Regions from separate parts of the Homo sapiens genome. Here region 1 is linked to region 2. A link means that fine-mapping ties the variant in region 2 to the expression of a gene that starts in the linked region. Tissue or cell type: tibial artery. Region 2 holds a variant in brackets; the other region holds the start of a gene. All regions are shown on one strand. Distances are from middle to middle. Region 1 holds the start of LINC02468 (long intergenic non-protein coding RNA 2468). Region 2 has its middle 12 kb from the start of LINC02398.

The links. PIP is the estimated chance that this variant, and not a neighbour inherited with it, causes the effect.
Region 1: it holds the start of LINC02468, and the variant in region 2 is the best candidate, but not a certain one, in a credible set for the expression of LINC02468 in tibial artery (GTEx, PIP 0.64).

What each region holds. Positions count from the first base shown.
Region 1 is chr12:20,125,993-20,130,407 of GRCh38, reverse strand. LINC02468 (long intergenic non-protein coding RNA 2468) reads left to right here and starts at 2,507. Exons shown (of 4, transcript NR_146523.1): 1 at 2,507-2,592.
Region 2 is chr12:20,000,198-20,004,612 of GRCh38, reverse strand. No RefSeq gene overlaps it. Among named protein-coding and RNA genes, the nearest start is that of LINC02398, 12 kb to the left of the region's middle. The variant C/T (reference allele first, on the strand shown) is at 2,035.

The sequences.
Region 1 (4,415 bases), 130 kb before region 2:
ACAAAAGCTTTATGAGAAATTTCTGGCTTATATCTTTCAAATAGATTATTAATTAATAATACTGGAAGGTTTTAATAAAATCATGCTAATGTCCTTCTCAGCAACAGTGTTATTATAGCATCAACTTATAACCAAAGCAATATATATTAGAAGTGACCAGCTAAAATCAGAAATGTGAATTATGGGAATATATGAAATTGCAACAATAAGTTATTAGAGGTATGATTAATGAAGCATCCGCCATGTGGCAAGTCTCACCCCAGAGCCACTGAGCCCTTCTGAGTTCATCAGTTTGGTTACCAATTATTTCCCAATATCCATTAATGGCAGGCACTAATTTTATTTTTCTCTATAGTATTCTTAAAGTACTCTTAAGGATAAAGTAGAATGGAAGTGAATCATTTGTTCCTGCTGTAATGACTGGCCAACTCAAAACATTAAATGCCAGCTCTGAGTGTTATGATGAATGCCACCTTAAATACATAAAATGAAAAAATTATGTTGACATAATAGATGAAGTCATAATTTGCAGAATTTTAGTAAAATTGGAATTCTAGGATTACATATGCATATGATTAGTTGTTCATTCATTTATTAATTTATTCACTCAATCACCTGTATACCAAATATGTATTAAGTATCTGTTATGTGCCAGGAACCTGTTCCAGGTTCAGAGAATACAGTGAATAAACAGACTGAACCCTGCTCTCAATGAACATCTTCATGTTACTTGATATGAGTTCATTCCTTGAAGTAAGAAAAATTCATTATGAATTGCCTGTTTTAAAGACAGGGCATGTGTACTTTGAAAGATTTAGATAGAGATTGGTTTGTGACATATAGTTTCTCTCTTTCCCAAATATATTTAAAATATTTATTGTCTCTCTTTGACAAAAAAATGAAATCATGGCTCTCTGTTGAAGGCCAAGGAAAAGGATCCATAATATATTTACATTTCCATCCTTGAAAAAGAATTCTAATCACAACAGAAGACTTTTTTTAAATAAGCATTTTAAAGAAATTATAATTTCAAATTTGAAATCTGTCAGCCAAACACTTAATTCATCAGTCATCTGCATATTTCAAGACTCAGTAATCTCCAGATGTGTCTCAATTATACCAATAAAATAAGACTAAGTACATGTCAACCCATGTTTTACAACTTGCATAGCTTACTTCTAATGCCTTTGTTCTGCTTACATATTGTGAGGAAGTGTTTATCTTTTTGCATATTTCTGAGTGATAGCATATAAAGACATACAGTATTTAGGATTTTTACAACTTTTTTACTTACTCATGAAACATTATCACTCATAAATGCAAAAGGCATGCATAATGATAAGGAAACCTCTGTGGTTTTCTTTAAATTCAGAAAGAACTTCATTAAAATTCCCACAATTTTATGACTGTTGCAGTCTAGGCCACATAATTTATTTTTATTTTGTGACTTGCTACAAATAAATTCTTGCTTAGTCCCAGACTTCTCTTAGCTTGATAAAATTTAAGAGCCTCTTTTAAATTTGGATACATTTTGACATCTTCAGTGGGTTTTATATGTACTCAAGTTGTTCTTTCCCTACACAGTTTTCTCGTATTATCGAATAAGCTAAGGAAAAACTGATGTTATTACTATGTTTGGTGAATTTTCAAATTTAGTATTAAATGTGTGCTCTTTTGTAAAAATCTGCTTGTAATTCATGTGTTGAAATGTTTCTTCACCCAACATGGCACATGTATACATATGTAACTAACCTGCATGTTACGCACATGTACCCTAAAACTTAAAGTATAATAAAAATAAATAAATAAATAAAAAGAAATGTTTCTTCATCTTTTACTCTAATTTAATCCACCAATTGATCAATCATTAATTCAACATTTATCTAGCCCCTACTGTGTTCGACACACTACTCTGGTTGCAAAAAATATAAGTGAAGAAAATGAACGAAAATTCCTGCCCTCATAGCACTGTAATGCCCTCTCAATAGTAAACATTTTTTTTTAGAAATGCAACCTTCTAACCACAAAATTTAATTGTGCTCCACTGTCTTCAACCTCTCTTAAAGTTTCAATTATTTATAAGCATAGTTTTTCCAAAAAATAGATTTCAAAATCACAATAACATAAAGCACGTTTCACATCTCTCTTGTTTCCTAAATTTTTCCAGGGCTTACTTTCCAGTTAGAAACACCTTGTGTTATAAATGTCTCTTCTTGTATCTAAAATTTTTGGTAAAACAATTGGCACAAACAACAGAATGCTCGATAGTTTTACCATTGAAAATATGAATACGAATAATTTTTAAAATTTAGTAGTATACTTTAAAATTTCATACGTTGAGAAAATGTAGAAATTGTGGCAGAGGTTGATAGTAGTCCTCCAATGGATATTTTCTCCTTTCTTTGTAATTCAACCTTGCCCTTGTTGGGTTCTTTTTCGTTTCTGCCAGCTAGAACATCAATAAGATGCTGGAGTTTAATCAACCACAGCAGACTGTGAGGTGGAAGCCACTTGGTGATTGTGAGCCAGCACCAAGATCGAAGGCATTTGGATCCCTGGTGATCACAGACCCAGCATGTCATCTCTGCAAAGGTGACATTAGATTCTATTTGAAGAAGAAGACATCCATATTGTTTAAGACGTTGTTATTTGGAGTTTTCTGTCAGTAGCAGGCAAACCTAATTCTAACTAACATAGCCTACAACTTACTTTCACAAATTTAACAATCTATGCTACATCCTGTATAATTCTTACCATCTTGATTATTTACTGAAGATGATGAAATGTTCAGTTATGTCACATGCCTATTATTGGCAACAGCATGATTCACCAACTCTTGGAGATTTTCCTGAAAAATAAAAACACTAGTGTTTGTTATGACCTTATTTGTATATAATCACAGATATATAGAAGTAAACCAAATCAATCTTGAACAAAATAGCGAATAACTGGTGATAATAAAAATATCTATATGGAGAGAGACACAGCTAAAAAGGTAAGAGGAAGCCCCACCAATACCAGCTAAGCACGGGGAAGGCAATGCTGGAGTATTTAATTGAGTCATTTCAAGTTGTGTATATGACTTTTACTTGCTTTTATCAAATACAATGTTTATTTCATTTAACCACAGTAAAACGAAAACTGTGACTTGTGTTTCACAGTGAGTATAACTGATTTAATGGAATTGTTGCAGTTCTATCACTTTTCTGAGTTAAAGTTTGCCTCCCCTAACTATTCTGGAAAATAAAAATTCACATATTCTCTGTTCTTTTTTTCCTTCCTCTACTTAATTCTATCTTATGCATGACATTTTACAGAAGGCTCATCTTCATTTTCTAATCAAGATGGCATATATTAAAAATCAGATCCATCATGTGTCATGCAACTATCATACGACACTGATTATTTTTCCAAATTCCAATGATTTACAACTGCCGTTTAATTGCCTGAGAGCATTTTAATCCAGGGTAGTTAACATTACTTGAACTGCTACATCATTTAATTGTAACATTATAGGTTTACAAGCAAAAGCAAGCCTTGAACTAGAGACAGCAAGTCTACGAAAAAAAAAAATCCAAGAGAAACCATCAAGTTTTAAAAGTTGATGTCAGAAATATCTCATTTAGTTCAAATAAACTACTGCGAAATAACACACTTTAAAACATGTAAATAAAGAGCTAAGTACCTAAAAGTAAAAAATAATATCTAGATGAAAGAGATAATTTATGTGTTGGATAGTGAGACTGGGCGTAAAAAGTCTGGTTCCCAAACATTTATGAAATATTTACACCATTCCTCAGGAAATAGCTAGAATATAAACAAAGTACCCTTCCTAGAAGAGCTTCAAAAATCATTTTTATAGTGGCAATTAATTTAATTCCTGAAACTCTGAGGAAATTACAAATCTATTGTGAATGTTTATGGTACTTGATAAATCAAGACCAGAAATGTTATCATCATTAACAATCATCAATAATTACAAAACTATTCAAGAGAGTCACATAAGAAAAAAATACTTTTAGCTGAGATGCAACTGAGCAAAAGTATGTTTCAAATTGTTTTTTAGCATGATACACAGAAGTCCAAGTTACATTTTAAAATTTTTGATTCTACTACACACAATTTTAATAGATTTTAATACATTACTAAACCAGAATAGCAAATGCTATACCCTGGTATCACACCAGCTAAAAAAAAATATGATCAGAAATTCACTTATTTCATAAATATAAAAGTGTGAAAATTTATGGACTTTCTTTTTTTATAATTTTAAGTAAGTTTTAAAAATGTTAGCATCTCTGTGTTCCCCACTGCAGCACAGAGAAGCACTATGGTATTGCGATTAAGAGTGGTTAATCAAACTGTCCTGGGTTCAAATCCAGGTTCTGTGCCATCTGTGTAATCTTGAATAAATT
Region 2 (4,415 bases):
ATAGTCAGGTTTGGGATATATTTTGAAGGAAGAGCTGAGAGTACTTGCTAATAAGTCAGATGCCGGATATTAAAAAAGGAGAATAGGTAAGGTAACTCTAAACTTTGGGGTATGAAGAATTGGAAAAATTAAGGTACCATTTAGTGAAATCTGTATCAGTTACCATATTTGCTGAATAACAAATTACCCCAGAACTTAGTGGCTTAAAAGTGATTTATTCATTCACAATTTTGTGGTTGATAATTTCACTTAGGTTCAGCGAGACATCTCCTCTGTTGCTCTCACTTAGACTCACTTATTGGCTATAGTCAGTTGACAGCTTGGACAGGACTGGATGGTATAAGATGGCCTTATTGACATATCTGGTGGTTGGCAGAGTGTGGCTGGATCACCTTGGTCCTCCCCATGTGGTCTTTCCAGCAGGGTAGCTTAGGCTTATTCACAGGGCAGCAGCTTTCTAAGACAGCGAGAGTGGAAGCTGCAGGGCCTCCTGGGGTCTATCTTCAGAAGTTGCACAAGGCCACTTCTGCCACATTTTATTAATCAAAACAAGTCACAAGGCCAGTCTAGATTTAAGGAGTAAGAAAATGGACTCCATCTTATTGTGTTTTTTTAATTTTTTTTTTTTTTTTTTTTTGAGACGGAGTCACACACTGTCGCCTGGGCTAGAGAGAGCGCAGTGGCACGATCTTGGCTCACGGCAACCTTCCCCTCCCAAATTCAAGTGATTCTTCTGCCTCAGCCTCCCAAGTAGCTGGGATTACAGGCACCCGCCATCACGCCCAGCTAATTTTTTGTATTTTTAGCAGAGACGGGGTTTCACTATGTTGGCCAGGCTGGTCTGGAACTCCTGACCTCGTGATCCACCCGCCTCAGCCTCCCAAAGTGCTGGGATTATAGGCGTGAGCCACCACACCCAGCCAATGGACTCCAACTCTTGACGTAAGGAGCTGCAAATAACTTGTGGCCATTTTTATTCTTCCATACATGGGAATGACAGAAAGTGTAGTCTACTTGTTCCAAGAGTTTCGTTTGTAGAAAAAAAAAATGTGCTTTGCTGGAAAATGGTGCATTGGTTAGAGCACACTCTTCCAGGTTCTCTAATTCTGATTCTATGGGGGCTATTTTACAACTTCGTCTCTTATACATAAATGATGACAATGCAAAAAATTGTTCTTGTCTGTGGATATGGAAACAAATTCTGTCCCTTAGAGGATCTATTGACTTTCTTCTCTCACTGCAGAAGAAGCCATTTTTGCCTCTATTTGCACATTTATTAAATGTCTATTAAAAGAAGACCTACAAATGCCCAATAGGTATATGATAAAAAATGCTCAATATTACTAAGCATCATGGAAATGCAAACTAAAACCACAATGAGATATCACCTCACCCCAGAATGGCTATTATCAAAAAAACTAAAGATAGCAAGTGTTGGCGAGGATGTAGGTCAAAGAAAACGCTTGTACACTGTTGGTTGGAATATAAATGAGTACAGCCATTATGAAAAACAGTATGGAGATGCCTCAAAAATTAACATTTAGAACTATTATATGATACAGCAATCCCACTACTGGGTATTTATCCAAAGGAAATGATATCAGTATGTCAAAAAGATATCTGCATTCCCATGTTGATTGCCGCACTATTCACAATAGCCAAGATATGGAATCAACCTACATGTCCATCAATAAATGGAGACCTAAAGAAAATGTGGTACATATACACAATGAAGTACTATTCAGCCATAAGAATGAAATCCTGCGATTTGCAACACTATGGATATTAAGTGTCCTTAATACAGACAAATAGCTCACCATCTCACTCATGTGGAATCTGAAAAAGTTGATCTCATGGAAGTAGAGAGTAGAACAGTAGTTTACCAGAGGCTGAATGACTATGGGGAGAAAGGGGAATAAGGAGATGTTGATCAAAGGATACATAATTACAGTTAGACAGGAGAAATAAATTTAAGAGATCTATTGTTCAGCCAGGTGACTATAGTTAAGGATGATATGTTGTATTCTTGAAAAA[C/T]GTAAACAGAGCAGTTGTTACATGCTCTCACCACAAAAATGGTATGCTGGATGGATGTGAGGTAATGCAATTGTTAACTATGTGAGGTAACGCAGTTGTTAGATTTAACCATTCCACAATGTATGCATGCTTCAAAACATCATGTTGTACATGTTTAAAAAATACGATGTCATCTGTCAATTTTTAAAAAAATTAGTTTTAAAAGTTAAAAAAATTCCTAATCCCTATATATGTCTCTGTTCATATTATTTTTCCCCTTAACATCTTTTTTTCCTTAACTTTTTTTGCCTTCCTCTTTCCTTTTTCTTTTATTTTTAAATTTATTTTTGATTGTGGTAAAATATACATAAAATTTACCATCTTAATCATTTTTAAGTACATATATAGCTCAGTAGTGTTAAGTACATGGCACACTGTTATGCAACCATCACTACCATCCCTTTCCAGAACTCTTTTCATCCTGCAAAATGGAAACACTGTACTCATTAAACAATAACTCCCCATTCCCCTGTAGGTTACCTATAGCTCCTGGTAACCACCATTCTACTATCTCTCTATGAAGTTCACTACCCTAAGTACCTCACAGAGATGAAATCATACAGTATTTGGCTTTTCGTGAATGGCTTACTTCACTGAGCAAAATGGCCTCAAGATTCATCCACAATGAAGCATATGTCAGAATTGCCTTCTTTTTCAAGGCTGAATAATATTCCATTGTGTGTATATACACCATATTTTGTTTATTCATTCATCAGTGGACACTTCTACGTTTTGACTATTGTGAATAATACTGCTATGAACACAGGTATACAAATATCTCTTAAAGACCCTGCTTTTAATTTTTAATTCTTTTGAGTATATGGCCTGAAGTAGAATTGCTGAATGATACAATAATTCTACTTTAATTTTTTGAGGAATCACTATACTGTTTTTCATAACAGTTGCACCATTTTACATCCCACCAACAGCACACAAGTATTCCAATTGCTCCACATCCTCACCAACACTTCTTATTTTCTGGTTTGTTTGTTTTGATAGTGACCATACTAATGAGTGTGATGTGGTTGGATTCTTCTATGACTGCTTGTAATATCTTCCTGATCCTCCCATAATAATATGTTAAATAAAATGTTTAACATTTGCTCTTTTATAGCTGTAGAAGAGCCATACCTTTGTCTTTTTTGAAAATTCTCTTTTAACAAGCTATAAAGTAGAACAAGTGGTCTGGAGTGGGTTTTCCAAACACGAAATATACTACAGCATGTTTGTTTTCTAATAGATAGGATGCAATAAAGAAGGAAAATTTATGATAGAAGGGGCAAAAGCAGGAACAAAGTTCTTGAAAAAAGAAAGAGGATTAGATCAAGATAGACAGAATTATATATAATTCATTTATTGTAACCGGAAGAAAATTAGAATATTCATGTAAAAATGCAGGTAGATCCCTTGACTTGGTTATAGAAGCATGTGGAAGGTATCTTCTGAATTTCTGTGTTCATTTTTTAATCCTTATGACTTAGCCCAAAACTAGTTCATAGTAGCTACTTAATGAATGTTTCTTGAGTGAATATAGCAGAGATAATCCTAGTCTACAAGAAAGAGCACAGTAATAAAGACCCACCATGTCTAACATATAAATACACTTACCATTCACCTAGTTCCACTGATAGCCTTTATTAACAGATTCTTAAAATGCTTTTAAACTGCCCATGTAAATAATTTTAAAAGCATACTCTGCTGAATTACCCTATTCTACCCCTCTTAGCAATCAAAGGTAAAAAGAATCTTGTAGCAATGTTGATCTGTCTGCAACATGACACCTCTTTGACTGATAGAAAACAGACAAACTAATGAGAGGAAGCTAAATACGGATATTGTTTACTGGGCTCTGATGACTTATTGTTGGCAAGCAAGTGAACTCTATCTAAGAGATAGGGAATAAAGAAAACATTGTGCTTGGTCTTAGATAAATAAAATATGGGGAAATATGATTTAAAACAAAAAAACAAATTTAACTGACTCATAATTACATCTCAGGAGTCCTTATAGAGGAGCTTAGGATATCTCTTTAGACTTTAAATACATAAAAAGCAGCCCTGGGATAAGCACTGTTTGACAGTTGAATGACAATCTCATCGTAGAGGAGAAGATAGCTGTGTGTTCATTAGCATAAACAACACATTCCAGGCTTCCAAACTACGTAACTTCCCACAAGGAGCATCTGACCCAGAAGACCCTAACACTGAGTGAGCCAGTAGGCATCTGAGAATGAAATTAAAACTTATACAGATGCCAAAGAGGTAAAACGACAAAGCTCAGAAATTTCTCCTTCAATTTAGTTCAATTCAACAAATATTATTTGAATACCTTACACTGAAAAA